2 separate regions of the Homo sapiens genome follow, and region 2 is linked to region 1. A link means that fine-mapping ties the variant in region 1 to the expression of a gene that starts in the linked region. Tissue or cell type: anterior cingulate cortex. Region 1 holds a variant in brackets; the other region holds the start of a gene. All regions are shown on one strand. Distances are between the middles of the regions.

Region 1 (8,107 bases):
TACCACTACTCCTAAGACCCAGGTCAGACAGCGAGGCATCACTGTTAAGAGCATGGGCGCTATGGTTGGACAACTCTATCACTTACTAGCTGTGTGTCCTGGACCCAGCTACTTAGTCCCTCACCACCTCTGTTTCTTCATCTATATAATGGGTCAGTAATCCCACCCACATGAAGTTATTGTTAGACTTAAATAAGCTGACCCATGTAAAGTGCTTGGAAATTCCCTGGCACAAAGCAAGTGCTCAATAAATATTATCTGTGACTCTATTATTATCATCATCATGATCATAATTATTACCGCAACTGCCACTAGCATTCCCTTCCAAGGTATTTTCTCAGCCAGCAGCAGCAAATCTGTTTGGGATTGTATGTCAAGCCCTGTGAAAAAGAAGGGTTTGGCACACAGGGCTTCATACAAAGAGGGGTTTTGAAGCTGACCTGGCCATTGCCAAGTCATTACCGTGCTTGTGAGAAGGGGGCAGCGAGCCTGCCACATGTTTGCATGTGGACCCTCACGGTGCTATACACATACCTACCTACTATAAAGATTTACTTCGTATGTGTTGTCATCTTGTCATGCTGTGTTCATCATGGCTTTTAATGTCTACGTAGCATTCCATTATCACTTTTGATCAACAGTTCCCTGATTGATTTTTTATTTTTCTATAGTAAACATTGAAGGAGAAAATATAATTGTCGCTAAATATTTCAGCCAAATAAGTCTGAGCTATGCATTATTCTAAGGCCCTCTCTCAGATCTTCACAATGCAAATCTGAGTATTAAAGGCTCTGAGAATTCTTGCGCAAAGGGGGACCTCATTTGATGTTATTAACCTGGCATTCCCCAGTTTTGGAATGTGCTCCCTATAGCTATTTCTTTAAGCTAAATAATTAGAGGAAGAATTTCTGGGTCAAAGAATATGTACAGTTCCAAGAGATTTTCATTTGTTTCCCTCTAGAATGTTGTTTTAGGAACTGACAAACTTGGAGATACCTCCTTCTGGGCTAAACTGTGACTTTTTAAAATCACAATTCGATGAAAAGTTCAACACACTAAAATATACGGTGGTATTCTTTTAAAAAATTCATACAATTGAACTGGGTACAAAGGATCACCTGGGTTTTTTGTTTGTTTGTTTTTGTTTTGTTTTCGTTTTTTGGTTTGTGGTTTTTTTGAGCTTTTAGATTCAGGGGGTCCATGGGCAGGTTTATTACCTGGGTCTATTGCGTGTTGCTGAAGTTTGGGGTATGAGTGATCCCATCACCCAGACAGTGTGCATAGTACCCGATAGTTTTCAACCCTTACACCCCTTCCATGCTCCCCCTTCTAGTAGTCCCCAATGTCTATTGCTCCCATCTTTGTGTCTGTGTGTACTCAATGTTTAGCTCCCACTTAGAACTGAGAACATGCAGTATTTGGTTTTCTGTCCCTGTGCTAATTCGCTTAGGTTAATGGCCTCCAGCTGCATCCATGTTGCTGCAAAGAACACAATTTCATCCTTTTTCACAGCTGCATAGTATTCCATGGTATACACGCACTGCATTTTCTTTATCCATTCCACCATTGATGAGCACCTGGATTGGTTCCTTGTGCTTGCCATTGTGCATTGTGCTGTGATAAACATACAAGTGCATGTGTCTTTTTGGCAAAACAATTTATCTTCTTTTGGATAAACACCCAGTAGTAGGATTGCTGAGTCAAATGGTAGTTCTGTTCTAAGTTCTTTGAGAAATCTCCAAACTGCTTTGGACAGGGGCTGAACTGATTTACATTCGCACCAACAGTGTATAAGAGTTCCCTTTTCTCTGTAACCTGGGCAGCATCTGTCATTTTTTGACTTTTTAATAATAGCTATTCTGACTGGTGTGAGATGGTATCTCATTGTGGTTTTGATTTGCATTTCTCTGAGGATTAGTGACGTGGAGCATTTCTTCATATGTTTGTTGACCGCACGTATGTGTTCTTTTGCAAAGTGTCTGTTCATGTCTTTGACCATTTTGTAATGGGGTAGTTGTTTGCTTGTTGAGTTGTTAAAGTTACTTATAGATTCTGGATATTAGACCTTTGTTGGAAGCATAATTTGTGAATATTTCTTTCCATTCTATAGGTTGTCTGTTTATTCTGTTGATAGTTTCTTTGCCAATTTTTGTTTTTGGTGCAATTGCTTTTGGGGACTTTGTCATAAATTCTTTGCCAAGGTCAATGTGCAGAATGCTATTTCCTAGGTTTTTTCCAGCTGGATTCTTTTCTCGTCTTCTGGCAAGTCAGTTTAGAAGAGGTTGATTTATTCAGAAAGTATCCATTTTCTTTTTCTAGACTTCAGACAGGAAAATGTAAAATGAGCAAAATTCTCGTGTATAAACTAGCTCAAAGGTTTGTGGAAGATTTAAATGCTGCATGACAGGTAGCAGGTAGTCGATAAATGCCAGTTGTGAATATTGCTTTTCAGATTAAATAACAAGGCTGAAAGTAAATGTTTTGGACAGGCTAGCTATTCTTCATACATCCAACCTAAAGGTAATCATCCTGGTTTATTTATTTATTCAAAAAATATTGAAAAATTCACACTGTGAGCCGGGTCCTAACTAGCCCTGAGGATAGCAGTGAACAAGACAGTGTGGAGTTTCCATTCTAGTGGGAAGACCGGCAATGAACAAGCCAATGAATGTCTGATCACACAACCGGTGTGATTACAGCTTACAGCTCTTTCCCATGGGAGAGTCAACAGCTTAATGGGATGGAGAGTAACTGGAGAAGGCCACCTTAGATGGGCTGGTTAGGAGGGAGATGATGTGTGATCTGAAGAGTGATAATGAACCAGCCAAGGGGAGAGGTGAGGGGGAGAAACCAACAGCTAATGCAAAGGCTGGGACGATGGGAGAGCCTGGCTAGCTTTGGACTGGGGAACAGGGTGAGTTGATGGTGGGAGGTGAGCAGTGATCAGTCCCCAAAGCCACAAAGGTTTTGAAGCCTGAAAGGGACATGACGTACATTTTTTAAATCTCACTCTCCTGTTCTGTGAGCAACAGAATAGAGGACCCGGAAACTGTAGTAGGGTTCTGTTTCTACACTAGTGCTAATGTAGAACCTCCTACATCCAGAAAGATGATAGCAGAGCTGAGCCACATTCTTCCTGGCAACTGATGTTCCCACACGTAGAAACAGCTGGCATCCTCATACAGAGGGAGGCTTGCAGGCCCAGGATACATCTCATCCCCCTTGCTAATCTCAGTACTTGACACCCCTGACCTCACCAGGGGCACCAAACCCAACTGCTTCCTGCAGGGATTCAGCTGCACTTGTCATCACAGAGCCTTGAAATCCCTGGGGATATCAACTCCTTGGAATTCCAGGCTGCTCTTCCACTTGCTTCTGACACATTGACTTTTCTGCCCATTCACTCACCCATCTTTAACCAAGGCCTGTATGGCCAGACATGAGGCCACTCACTGCCTACATGAAGAGGGAAAGACAAAGTGTATCCCTGGGAGCTCGCTACCTTGTGTGAAAATTACAACATCAGATAGTAAATGCCTTGGTGAAGATACGCATCCCAAGGGCAGGAAGCTCCCCACCTTGATCACTGCAAACTCCCCAGTCCCTAACAGAATACTGGGAAGATAGAAGGTGGTCAAAGCGTATGTATGGAATGAACACTGGAAATCAGTACACAGGGCTGGGAATGTGTGATTCTGAGCACTCAGTGATGGAAATAACCCTCCAGCTCCTTCACAGAACAGCCAGCAGCATCACCTGTTTTGGTGATGGTGCCTCCGGATGATGATCCGTGAGCGCACACTGGACTCGTGCTCCTGGGTGAGCTCTCTCCTTGTGAAACCCAGATGCTTCTGTCTCCCAGGGACCCTGCAGCCCTCCCGGTAACCTGGCCTCCATCACGAATGCAGTCTCTATAGACGGTTGTCTATTAGGATGCCACTGGAGAGGGAGGTCCCGTCATCACCTAAGCTAAGCACAGCTGCCTCTAAGTACCTCCTTGCTTGGCAGCCGGCCAGACCACATTCACTGAGCTTCAAGTCATAATG[C/T]GAGGCTCAGCCATCTATCTCACTGTGGTCCCCGCTGCAGCTGGCTTCATTTATTGACTTCTTGAAAGTGGCAATATCCATGCTCAGCTTGGTCTGAGCTGGACTCAGAGACCCAGGTGCCAGAGCAAAGGCCATGGTGTGTCGGTTAATCACCCAATAAAAATAAACTCTGAGAACAAATACAGAGGGGTGATTAACTTTCCCATTCTGGTCTTCTGACATCCCAGTTTGCTCTCCCAGTGAGCGTGTTTCTTTGAGATAAACCACCCTGGGAAACTGATCACCTGTCCAGACACCACCATGCCTTGGCGTAAGTGGACAAAAGTGGAACGTGACCTGCAAGCAGCGCAGCCTGAGACTTAGGCAGAGAGCCCCCTGCCCCAGGTTCCATGCTGCTGAGGGCCTTATCAGAAACTCTGAAGCAGAGCACCAGACTATTTTATTCTGCTTTTTGCTCTTGTAATAAAGTGTTATTAGTGTTTAGTCACCAGATTAAACCCCAAAGCCTTACCTCCCCTCCTGTGACCATCCATGTACTCCAAATCATGAACCAAAAAACAGGGACCACCAACAGCCCTTACCAAAAGAAGACTGGAAGCACAAAAAAGCAACTTACCATGAATCAATTTAAAGTGAAGACCAAAGTGTGACTCAAAACTGAAAAAATATATGTATTTGGTTAAGATGTAATTGTTACCGAAGCACCAGGGGTTTGGTCTGGGTCCTGCTGTTCACTGCACAGAAAGCCAATCACTGAGACAAGACAAAAGCCAGGGAAGAAGGCTTTAATCGGGTGCTGCTGCAGCCAAGGAAATGGGAGGTCAGTCTCAAATCCATCTCTGAAATGAGGGGTTGATGCACCAGAGAGGAAATGTAACCGTGTTTGGGAAAACATGGATGAAATTGGAAATCATCATTCTCAGTAAACTATCGCAAGGACAAAAAACCAAACACCGCATGTTCTCACTCATAGATGGGAATTGAACAATGAGAACACATGGACACAGGAAGGGGAACATCACACTCTGGGGACTGTTGTGGGGTGGGGGAAGGGGGGAGGGATAGCATTAGGAGATATACCTAATGCTAAATGACGAGTTAATGGGTGCAGCACACCAGCATGGCACATGTATACATATGTAACTAACCTGCACATTGTGCACATGTACCTTAAAACTTAAAGTATAATAATAATAATAATAATAATAATAAAAACAGGGATTAAAGCGGGGCAAGGAAGAGAAGTTGGTCAGTAGGAAGCAGGTGGTCCTTTAGGCAATCCTGATGGATGAGGGGTCTGGCTCCTCATTATCCAGAGGCAGTGGTCTGGTAAGTTTCAGCTCCTTGATTTTATCTGGGAGACCTGATGGTTGGCTTCTTGAGAAAGGAACTCAGATAAGACAATTGTAACTTTCTCAAGTTTTAAAGTCTGGAAGGAACAATTTCTGTGGTTATTCAAAAAAAAAAAAACATAAGCGTCAGTTCTGTGGGACAATTTGATCACTTTATTTTGGAGAAAAAAATGATGAATAGAAGTTTGTTTATAAGTTTAACCCCAATAATAGGCTAGTCTCACAGTGAACACAGATGAACCAAGAATTGCTTTGCTTTTGACATAATTTTTACAACATCCCACGGCAGTACATGCCAAACTTCACCTTGTGCTCAGCTTATGCCCTGCATTTATAAAGAGATTGTCTTTCCTAACCATTCGAGGGCTTTGTCCATTTCCCAAAGGACCTCTCCCCAGTCCTTTGCCAGTCAAATCACTCTTTCGAAGCAGTTGTAAATCCACTGTCCTTTCTCTTCTTCAATCATTGATTCCCTTCTCTCCATTGCGTTTTCACTTGTCATGGATTTACTTATGATTCCTTTTTTTCTTCTTGTATTGCTTTACTTGTAATTAGCAAATAATAATTGTATATATTTATGAGGCATAATGTGATGGTTTGGTCTTTGTATACATAGAAACTTTGATCAACATCTCCCCCTTCTTCAGCCCTCTCCCTGCTGCCATGAATTTGACTCTTTTAGATTCCACAGATACATGAAATAATAAAGTATGTGTCTTTCTGGGCTTGGCTTATTTCACTTAGCGTAATTCTTATACTCTGAGTATCCTCGTAGAACCCTACATCTTTTGTGAGATTGACAGTCATACTTTGTGCTGGACTGGTGCATCTTTGGGATGGTTTTGTCACTGGGCGATAACTCATGAGGTCTGCTGACCAGGTAGATACCAGGAGTAAGCAGGATATTTGGCTGCAAGAGAGAATTATAGGCCTGGTCGGGAGTTCATTCAGGATGTTGTAAATGGAATACTGGGGTGATGAGCAGTCCTTGTGGGTCTTGTTCATATTTGTATATATTCAGGCCTAGGAATGCAGGGAAAAAAGGGATAAAACACACTGAATGAAAAGAGTGTGAACAAATGGATGAAGAGCCTCACACCAAGTAAAGCTTACGTTGCTACCAACTGGTACCAAACTCCAAGTCGTCCTGTTCTTTTCCAAGCGCCATTTCTGCTGCTTAGAAAAAGCCACCCAATCTGGATACATGGATGTAGCAAATTTAACCTTAGACCTAGATTACCTATAGGATCAGACTTGATCAGTCATTAATAATGATAATGAAAATTAATCATGAAAGCTATCTTGTGGTTGCACCTTAAAGCATCTGTGTAATGCTTTTACCCATACTAAGAGTGTTCAATCCCTGTTTTCACCTAGGATTGATAAGTGTATTTCTGGATTTCAGAAATCGGATAGCTTCTGAAGTCTCAGCCTGTTAATATGGTAACTAAATATGTTAAGGTCCTAGTCTCTCAATGTTTAATTACTGTTTAATTTTTTATTTCCTAATTTACTCAATGTGTATGATATTGTTAAATTTGTGGCTTTATACCCTGAATCTCTTTGTCTGTATTTCTCTGTATTGCTTGGCAGTCAATTTGGTCAAAAGCAACAACGAAATGACCCTTACGAAGTGTCAAATGTCCCTTTATATGAGATATAAATGTCTTTGCAAAGACACTTATAAAGTTGTGAAGACGTTGTTTCCTTACTCTAATAGCTGCTGTATTCACGTAGGTTTCAAAAATGGGGTGGGGGAGGGCAGTGGCAGTGAGCGCCTAGCGGAAACTATGTCAATCACCCCTGGAAATAAATCTGCAAAATGGACTAGCAAGCCCTGACTAGGAAGAGCCCGGCCACAGCAAAATCTTATTGCAGGCACAAAAAGGTCCTATTGCAGCAGTTGGGAGACCTTTGGTAAATTCTAACAAAGAATTAATGGCCTCGAACAAGACGCCCGGTATGACCTTTGCCAGAAGAAACTAGGAGCAGACTTGCTTGCCTGGAACAGGTGGTGAGGAGGTTTTCAGAGAAGATGTGTGCAGTCCCTGGCAAGTAGCTGGTGCCCAGGAAATGTCAGTTCCATTGTTTGCCAGGGAAGGCTCGGTGCACGTGGGGCTCACACACAAAGGAAGAGGTTAGAGAGTCCGCAGAAAAGGGTGGGAGCTCAAAACAGTGGTTCTTAGGCGTTTGTCTGCAGGCACGCTGGTAATTCATGCTGACCATGCCCACAATCAGTGGCACCTAGCTGTGGCCCCACCCCTTTCCTGCCCACTATTGAAAGTGACTACATGGCAAAGAGCGCCTATTTCCTAGACTAAATCATTCTCAGACTTAAGTTATTAGTGAGCGCTGTTAGACTCAAGTTCCTTGATATCTACATCACAACTGAGTAGTTTATCTCAGTGGTAAGTCTCGAAGTTTGACTTCGAAGTTACTAAGAGCCTTCCAATAAAAGAACAGTTTAAGCCAATATTGTTTCACCATTGATAGTGATGAAGATATTAAATTCACACACATGTGCTGTGTGATTTTAAACCTTTCTCAAATGTGTATGATTTTTATAAGCAGAAATATAATTTTAAGAAAGCTTTATATCTATGTAATAGGGTTCTTTTTTTTTTGGGAAATATTGCCATCCTGTAAATTCCAGTCCTATGTTCCTGAGTTATTCCCCACTAAGGAAAGCCCAGCTGTGGGACATAGACC
Region 2 (8,107 bases), 450 kb after region 1:
CAGCCTGTCCTGGGCGCCTCCAGCAGGGTAGACCAGCTGCCCGAACTGGGGTGTCCTTCCAGGAACCCAGGCCAGCGCGCCCCCAGTGCAGGCCTCATCCAGAAGCAGCTGCTCCCACCGCAGCACCAGCTCCTCGTGCAGCAGCTCTGCCAAGTGGCTCGCCACCGACGTGCCCAGGATGGGGCCCCCGAGGATAGAGAAGCGGCGCTGTCGGTTGCTGAGGTAAGCCCAGGGACACCTGGGGACCAGAGAACAGCAGGAGGATCACTCGGTGGCACTCAGGGGAGGACAGGTCCCATCCCAAGGAGGCCAAGTGCAGTGGACACATTTCTTATTTACCTAGAATTTCTTCCTTTGGGAGACCACCCCATCCTGTTCCCATGCCCCGGAAGCAATCATGTGACCCAGACCTGGCCACCAACAATATTCCATTGCCCTTGCCACAGTGACTGGTTCACAGATGGGTGTGAGACCCAAGCCAAGCCAACCAAAGTCCTTTCTGGGACTTCTGGTGCCGCAGGAAGGACACTGGCTCTTTCCTTAGATCATAAGCCATCTTGCTGCTACCTAGAGACAGCCTGTCTAGGGAACTGTGCAGGGAGAGGCAAGTGGACGAGACAGGAAAGAGAGACACAGCTCTATGAACATTATTTGAACACCTGGATGCAGCTGTGCCTGAACTCCACAAATGTAAATCTGCTTTCCCCTGAGATGATTTGGAGTTGGAAGTCTGGTATAAGAAAGTACAGCTCAGACTGCATGGAGCAGGGGGGAAGTGGGTATGACGGAAAGCTGTACGTGCGTCCTAGCACCTCCTACATCCCCACCACCAGCTATGCCTATCCATCTCCTCCTTTCTCATCAGCCACTTGCCCCCAGGGCTGGTGTCCACCGAGGTCCTGGAGCAGCTTCTTCACACTGACCACTGTCTTCTTCTTAGTGCGGCTCTGCATGGAAAGGCCTTGTCAGGCTCACACACCCTCGAGTTCACCCCTGAAGGACAGCAGGGAGTCCCCACCCCTGGAGTCACGGGCCACTCACCCCCGCTCCCTCCAGCTTGAAATTCTCCAGCATCAGCTTCCCCAGGGGCGCAAAGGCTACGTCTCCATGATCCAAGAGGAACCGGCTGATCTGGGGAGAAGAGGAGGCCAGGTCACTAAGCACAGTCTCCAGGCTACGCAGCACTGTCCCCCGTGGGCCCACTCACCTGCTCAGTCACATCCAGCACGACTCGGGGCCGCTTCCGATACCGGCACCCTCCGCGGAAAAGCAGGTCCCGGGCAGTCAGGCCAGGGTCCCAGGGATCTGAGAAGGAGGTTACGGAAAGGGCTGGGGAGGGCACAGGAGTGCGGCCAGATGCCCTGGGCGACTGGAGGTATCCAAGGGTCCTGAGCAGGCACAGGCTTAGCAGGGAGAGGAAGGTCTCAGGAGCGGGAGCAGTGGGAAGAATAGGTGGAGCAGTGTGGAGTGAGCCCGGGGGAATGAGACCCTTACCGATGAGGGGAGGCAGCATGGGGAGAGGCCCAGGGGTTGCCGGCTCCCACAGCAGGTCCTTGGTCACATGCAGTGCCCCATTCTGAAGGGAGGACAATCGCAAGGACAGTATCATGATGAATGCCCTCCCTGGGCCAGGCTGTGCACAGGCATTCATCTCTTATCAACTCATCCAATCCTCACAACAATCCTGCGAAGCTGGGATGACTGGCATTGTCATTTTACTGCTGAAGAAACTGAGGCACACTGCCATTTGCCCCAGAAGACAGAGCCGGTAAAGAGAAGAGCTGGGATGTGAACCCAGGCAGCCTGACCCCAGAGCTCCTGTTTCCGACCTCCACCTGTGCTGGCTCTCAAAGAAGGAAGCCCCTCATGCCACCAGTGGCTGGTCCACATCTCACGTAACCTCACTTCCATTCAGGAGACCTTGCAGTCACTCTGGGAGCCCGGCAGGCGGCTCCACCTCCCTTTGCTGGGCTGGCCTGGGATGTTTCGGCCCAGACATTCAGGGGACAAAAGAGCTAGGAAACCAGACTCCCAGAGGAGCCCCAATTTGACGCCAGACCCTCCCTCGTAAGGATGCCATCCCTGACCCCCGTTCCCCAAGCCTCTGCTCCACTGTCTCTCTTTTTATTTGCTCACCCACTTGCCTCTGCCAGGCTTCATTCCCAGACAGGGTGTTTCCAAGGGGAACTAGGCGGCTGAGGATTCCAAGCAAAGGGCCAGTGTCCCTCCAGAGGCAGCAGAAACCCTGCAGGTCTATCCTCCCCTCTCCCAACCCTACTATGCTGTTTCAGCATCCTTCTGCTTTCATTCCAAGCTCTGATCACATTTTGTAAACACCTTATCCATTGGATAAAGTTCACTTGTTTATTCTCGCTCAACTCAGCTCTCCGTTCCAGGAAGGGAGGGGTCAACCGACTGATTCAGGCAGCATTCTCACGGTCTCATAAGGGACCCGGCATAGTGGGGGCATCCGTCTAGGGATGGCAGGGTAGCCCATGTACCCCAGAGGAGGTGGCAGAGCCTGTGTCTCAGCAGACTCGTGTGAATGCCACCACTCTGTGGCCTTGTCAACTGATGTGAATGTGAGACGGGGGACCCAGGGAAGGGATGTCCCTGGAGCTGCCAGGGCCCCCTGCCTGCATCCTCACCTCTGAGTTCTGGGGCTGGGCCTCTGGCAGAGTCAGTGCGTCTCGCCAGCTGCACATGAAAGAGAGGTCAGGGACGTCGCTCAGACCAAGGGGGCCGGTCAGAAACAATGCAGGGCGGAGGGAGCTGGGGAAGTCCATCCTGGAAACAAGGACCAAGCACCACACTGGCCACCTCGAGAGACTGGAAGCTGGTAAGGGGCGCCAGAGTTCCTGAGGAGTGAAAAGTGCACTACGGGAAGCATATGTTCTTTGAGGAAGCAGATAACAAAAAACAAATATGTAGCCCAAGGCCAAGCAGTAGTGAGAACTGTATTAAAGCCAACCACCCGTCCAGGAGAAGGGGATCTGGTAGTGGGCTGAGGGCGTGGTTTCAGCAAAGCCAGCCAGGAAAAGCCTCGTTGAGAAGGTGGCGTTTGAGCACAGCCTGAACCTAGTGAAGGAGAGAACCATGTACGCAACTGGGAAGAGGGTTCCAGGCCGAACGGTCAACAACTGTGAAAATCCTAGAGCAGTGAAGTGTGTGAGAAAATGAGGCAGCCAGAGTGAGCGAGGTGGAGAGCGGTGGAGATGGAGTCAGAAAGACGGCAAGGGGCAGCCTCTCTCCCGGCTCGTAAGTACCGTCATCATACATTTACAGACTACACCCCCAAGACGCTCAAGTTACTCCACAGCCAGGGACTGCATCTGAGCATCGTCTTCCTACTGTCAAGCACAGTGCCTCCCAGAAAATGCACTAGGGGTTGAAAAAAATAAATTTCTATCACAAGGGGCCGGGCGCGGTGGCTCACGCCGGTAATCCTAGTACTTTGGGAGGCCGAGGCAGGCGGATCACCTGAGGTCGGGAGTTCGAGACTGGCCTGACCAATGTGGAGAAACCCGGTCTCTACTAAAAATACAAAATTAGCCGGGCGTGGTGACGCATGCCTGTAATCCCAGCTACTCGGGAGGCTGAGGCAGGAGAATTCCTTGAAGCCGGGAGGCGGAGGTTGCGGTGAGCTGAGATCGCGCCATTGCACTGTAGCCTGGGCAACAAGAGCGAAACTCCATCTCAAGAAAAAAAAAAATTACATCACAAGGCTTTGGTAAATACAGTCCTCTAGAAGTATGAGCAGCCATAGCATCCCTCCTTTTTAATTAACAAAAATAACAGGGGCAAAAATAACAGCAGCGCTCGCTGACCAAGCGCCAGCATCTATCTGCCAGGCACATGCTAAATGCTGCACTCTTCTATCGCCGTCCCTGTTAACAGAGTTCAGGAAACGAAGGCTCAGCAAGAACTTTAGTCCAACAGCTCTTAGCTGCCACAGCCAAGACTTGATTCCCATCCGATTCAGAGGCAGAGCTCCGAACCAGTGCTCTCGCATGCACCGAAATGCAAACGCTAGCATTAGAGTCTCGCTATACAAAAATCTTTTCCCTTTGGCCGGGTGCGGTGGCTCCCGCCTGCAATCCCAGCACTTTGGGAGGCCAAGGCGGGCGGATCACCTGAGGCCAGAAGTTTGAGACCAGTCCGGCCAATACAGTGAAACCCTGTCAATACTAAAAATACAAAAATTAGCCGGGCGTGGTGGTGTACACCTGTAATCGCAACTACCGAGGAGGCTGGGCACGAAAATCGCTTGAATCTGGGAGGCAGAGGTTGCAGTGAGCCAAGATCATGCCACAGCACTCCAGCCTGGGTGACAGAGCAAGGTTCTATCTCAAAAATAAAATAGAAACAAAAATATTTTCTCTTGGAACCGCATAGCCTGAAACGATCCTAGACAGGCGGAGGGCGCTGGTGGAGAGCACGACCCCACAAAAGCCCTCAGACAAGGCAGCCTCGACTTCCCCGGCCGGCTTCCCGCCCTCGCTGCGGGCTCTCCAGGACCCTTTAGACCTCCAAGGCTACAGAACTCAGTCGGATCCGCAATAACGACAGGCCGGGGACTGCGAAACGTGAGCCTGCCGCGGGGACTGGGGATTGGGGGCGTCCCTCCCCTCCTACATCTGCGGGTCCGCTCCTCGAACACGCGCAGTCCGCGCGGAGGGGGCGCATGCGTGCACTTACGTGACCCCGGCCTCGTCGTGGTCGTCTGGAAAATGGGCCTCGGCGTGATGCTCGCCGGACCCTGGCACCACGAGGGAAATCTCAAGTAGAACCCCAGCTTTGGCACTCGGGACGGGTCAGCCCCGCCGCAGCTACCCACGGTCTTCCGGTTTGGACCGGAAGTGCCTCCTGCGGAGGCAGGAAGTCCCGCCTCCCAGCCAGGCCTCTTAGGGTCCTGGCGCGCCCCCTCCCGGGAGGAGAGGGAACGGGCGTGCAGGCGGCGCGTGGGCAGCGGAAATAAAGCTCCCTTGAGTCCCAATAGTGGAGGCCGGGTGGACTTAGGTTCGAATCCCACATCTACTTCACCAATTTCCTCAGAGTTGTATTAAATTAATCATTTAACGAACTCCCACAGAACACCTACTATAAGCCAGACCTGTATTGGTCAGTAGGTATCCTACTGATTGTCCTTAAATCCCAAGAAGCGGGCTTTACAAATAAGGGTACAAATACCTACTAAGAGTGAAGCTTTTCCAGGGGTGGTCAGGCAGGGAGAGCTTTAGGCAGTGGTCTTCAAACTCTAGCTAGCGTGCGTCAGCAGTAGCACCTGGGGGGCTAGTTAAAACACAGTCTCCAATTCGGTGAGTCTGGGGTGGGACCTGATGATTTGCCTAAGTTCCCAGGTGATGCTGAAACTGCTTATCTGGGGGCCATGCTTTAAGAACCACTGTCCAGTCATGAACCTTACCGTTATCCTAACATAGTACTTCTCAAACTTCAGTGAGCCTTAGAACCACCTGGGGGGCTTGTTACAAGTTTGCTAGGCTCCACCCTACCTCTGCCCCCCGAGTTGCTGATTCAGTAGATCTGGGATGTGGCCCAAGAGTCTGCATTTCTAGCAAGTTCCCAGATGATGCTGGTCCAGGGGCCATACTTTGAGAACCGTTGCTTTAAAGAATCAATTTCCAAATTCTCAGCTGTCATCTATGTCTTTATTTATTTTTTTGAGATGGAGGCTAGAGTGCAGTGGCACGATCTTGGCACACTGCAACCTCCGCCTCTTGGGTTCAAGCAATTCTTCTGCCTCAGCCTCCCGAGTAGCTGGGATTACAGGCCTGCGCCACCATGCCCGGCTAATTTTTGTATTTTTAGTAGAGACGGGGTTTCACCATGTTGGTCAGGCTGAGTCTTGAACTCCTGACCTCAAGTGATCCGCCTGCCTAGGCCTCCCAAATTGCTGGGATTACAGGATGAGCCACCACGCCTGGCCTATATTGTTTTTATCTGGAAGTTTTTACCTGGACTAAAAGTGCCAGCAGGGCTGTGTTCCTTTTGAGAGGCTCTAAGGAAGAGTCCACTATCTTGTCTTTTCTGGCTTCTGGAAGCTGCCTGCATTCCTTGGCTCATGACCCCTTTCCATCTTCAAAGCCAGCAATGCCAGTCGGATTCTTCTCATGAGGCCATCTCTCTGGTTTTTACTCTTCTGTCTCCCTCTTTCCCATGTAAGGACCCATGTGATTATAGTAGGCCCGCCCAGGTAATCCAGGATAATCTCCCTATTTTATTTGTTTTATTTATTTTTTTGAGACAGGGTCTCACTCTGTCGCCCAGGCTAGGGTGCAGTGGTACCATCATGGCTCATTGCAGCCTCAACTTCCCAGGCTGAGATGATTCTCCCACCTCAGTCTCTCGAGTAGCTGGGATTACATGCAAGCACCACCATGCCTGGCTAATTTTCTTTTTTTTTTTTTATTTTGAGACAGAGTTTCACTCTGTCACCCAGGCTGGAGTGCAGTGGCGTGATCTTGGCTCACTACAACCTCCACCTTCCAGGTTCAAACGATTTTCCTGCCTCAGCCTCCCGAGTAGCTGAGACTACAGGTGCCTGCCACCACACCCAGCTAATTTTTGTATTTGTAGTAGGGACGGGGTTTCACCATATTGGCCAGGCTGGTCTTGAACTCCTGACCATGTGATCCACCCGCCTTGGCCTCCCAAAGTGCTGGGATTACAGGCATGAGCCACCACGCCCGGCCTAATTTTTGTAGTTTTTGTAGAGATGGGATTTCATCATGTTGCCCAAGTTGGTCTCTAACTCCTGGGCTCAAGCTACCTTCCCACCTGGGCCTCCCAAAGTGCTGGGGTTACAGGTGAGAGCCCTATTTTAAAGGCAGCTGATTAGCAACCTTACTTCCACCTGCAACCTTAATGCCCCCTTGCCAAATAATATACTCATAGGTTCTGGGGATTAGGCTGTAGACATCTTTGGGGGAACCATTATTTTGCCTACCACACTAATATTCTACATTACCCTTGTAAAACGCCTATCCAGCTTTGGCACTGCGAGGCCAGTTCCATTTCTTCCTTTCCTCCTTTCTCTGAATAAGCCATTATCAATTTGCTTTTGTAACTGACATATACTCAACATGCAGTAAAGCACACGAGTCTTAAATGTACAGCTCATTGAATTTTTATTCATACATAGAAACCCACATGAACACCACCCAGATCAAGACAGAGAACATTTCTATCACTCAAGAAAGTTCCAGCCAGGCACAGTGGCTCATGCCTATAATTCCAGCACTTTGGGAGGCCGAGGTGGGAGGGTTGCTTGAGTCCAGGAGTTCAAGACCAGACTGGTCAACAGAGCAAAACCCCCATCTCTACAAAATTTTTTTCTAAAAAGAAAATTCCCTGGTGCCACTTCCCAGTCAATACTTCCTTCAAGAAGGAACCACTATTTGGACTCTTATCACCACAGATTAGTTTTGCCAGTTCAAGAACTTTACATAAGTGGAATCATGGAGAGGATGTGTCTGGCTTCTTCCACGCCATGTGCCTAATAGATTCACCTGTGTTGTGTACGCAGCTGTTGTTTCCTTTTTAAATTAGTGAGTCGTGTTCCATTGTATGAATATACCATTGATTTGTTCACGCAACCTCCTGTTGGTGAGCGTTTGGGGCGTTACTGGGTTTGATGACTTTGTGGAAGTCTCTCTGTGGATATGTGCAGCCCTCAGTCCATTTCTGGACATCTGCTGTGCTGTCCCTTCACTCTCCTGGGCCTCATCCCACTCTCTGGGCTGCACACACACACAAAATGGAATTGTTCTTCCTGATGTCAATTCTTGACATGTTGGGGAGGCTGACTACCCAGCCCACCACACCTGCTTCTTCCAAGTCAAAGGTTCTGGGAGGACTCCACCACCTGGTCCTCATATGCCCCAGCATCCTCACTGTCACAATCCTGGAGAGAGCTGCCAGGCCCAGCTTCAGCAGCAGCAGCAGCAAGCACTGTGACAAATCTTACAGACACTGGTCATGCTTTCCCAAGTTAGTGGCTACTGTAAGACTCCGTTAAACTTGCAGCCTCCTTCAAGCAAATACGCGTTGCATCACAGTAAGCCTTGTGTAAATTGTCTTCATCCCT

What was found. PIP is the estimated chance that this variant, and not a neighbour inherited with it, causes the effect.
Region 2: TAF1C starts here. The variant in region 1 is fine-mapped to the expression of TAF1C in anterior cingulate cortex (GTEx, PIP 0.98).

What each region holds. Positions count from the first base shown.
Region 1 is chr16:83,729,498-83,737,604 of GRCh38, forward strand. The region is part of intron 10 of CDH13 (cadherin 13); the gene reads left to right. The region is part of intron 1 of CEDORA (CDH13 antisense oligodendrocyte and neuron associated lncRNA); the gene reads right to left. Among named protein-coding and RNA genes, the nearest start is that of CEDORA, 39 kb to the right of the region's middle. The variant C/T (reference allele first, on the strand shown) is at 4,047.
Region 2 is chr16:84,182,203-84,190,309 of GRCh38, forward strand. It overlaps TAF1C (TATA-box binding protein associated factor, RNA polymerase I subunit C), which reads right to left and starts at 4,855. Exons shown (of 15, transcript NM_001243156.2): 1 at 4,699-4,855; 2 at 2,649-2,858; 3 at 1,495-1,576; 4 at 1,208-1,305; 5 at 1,042-1,131; 6 at 874-947; 7 at 1-238. The coding sequence starts at 2,786. RefSeq lists an enhancer at 4,695-5,195 and a silencer at 4,841-5,050.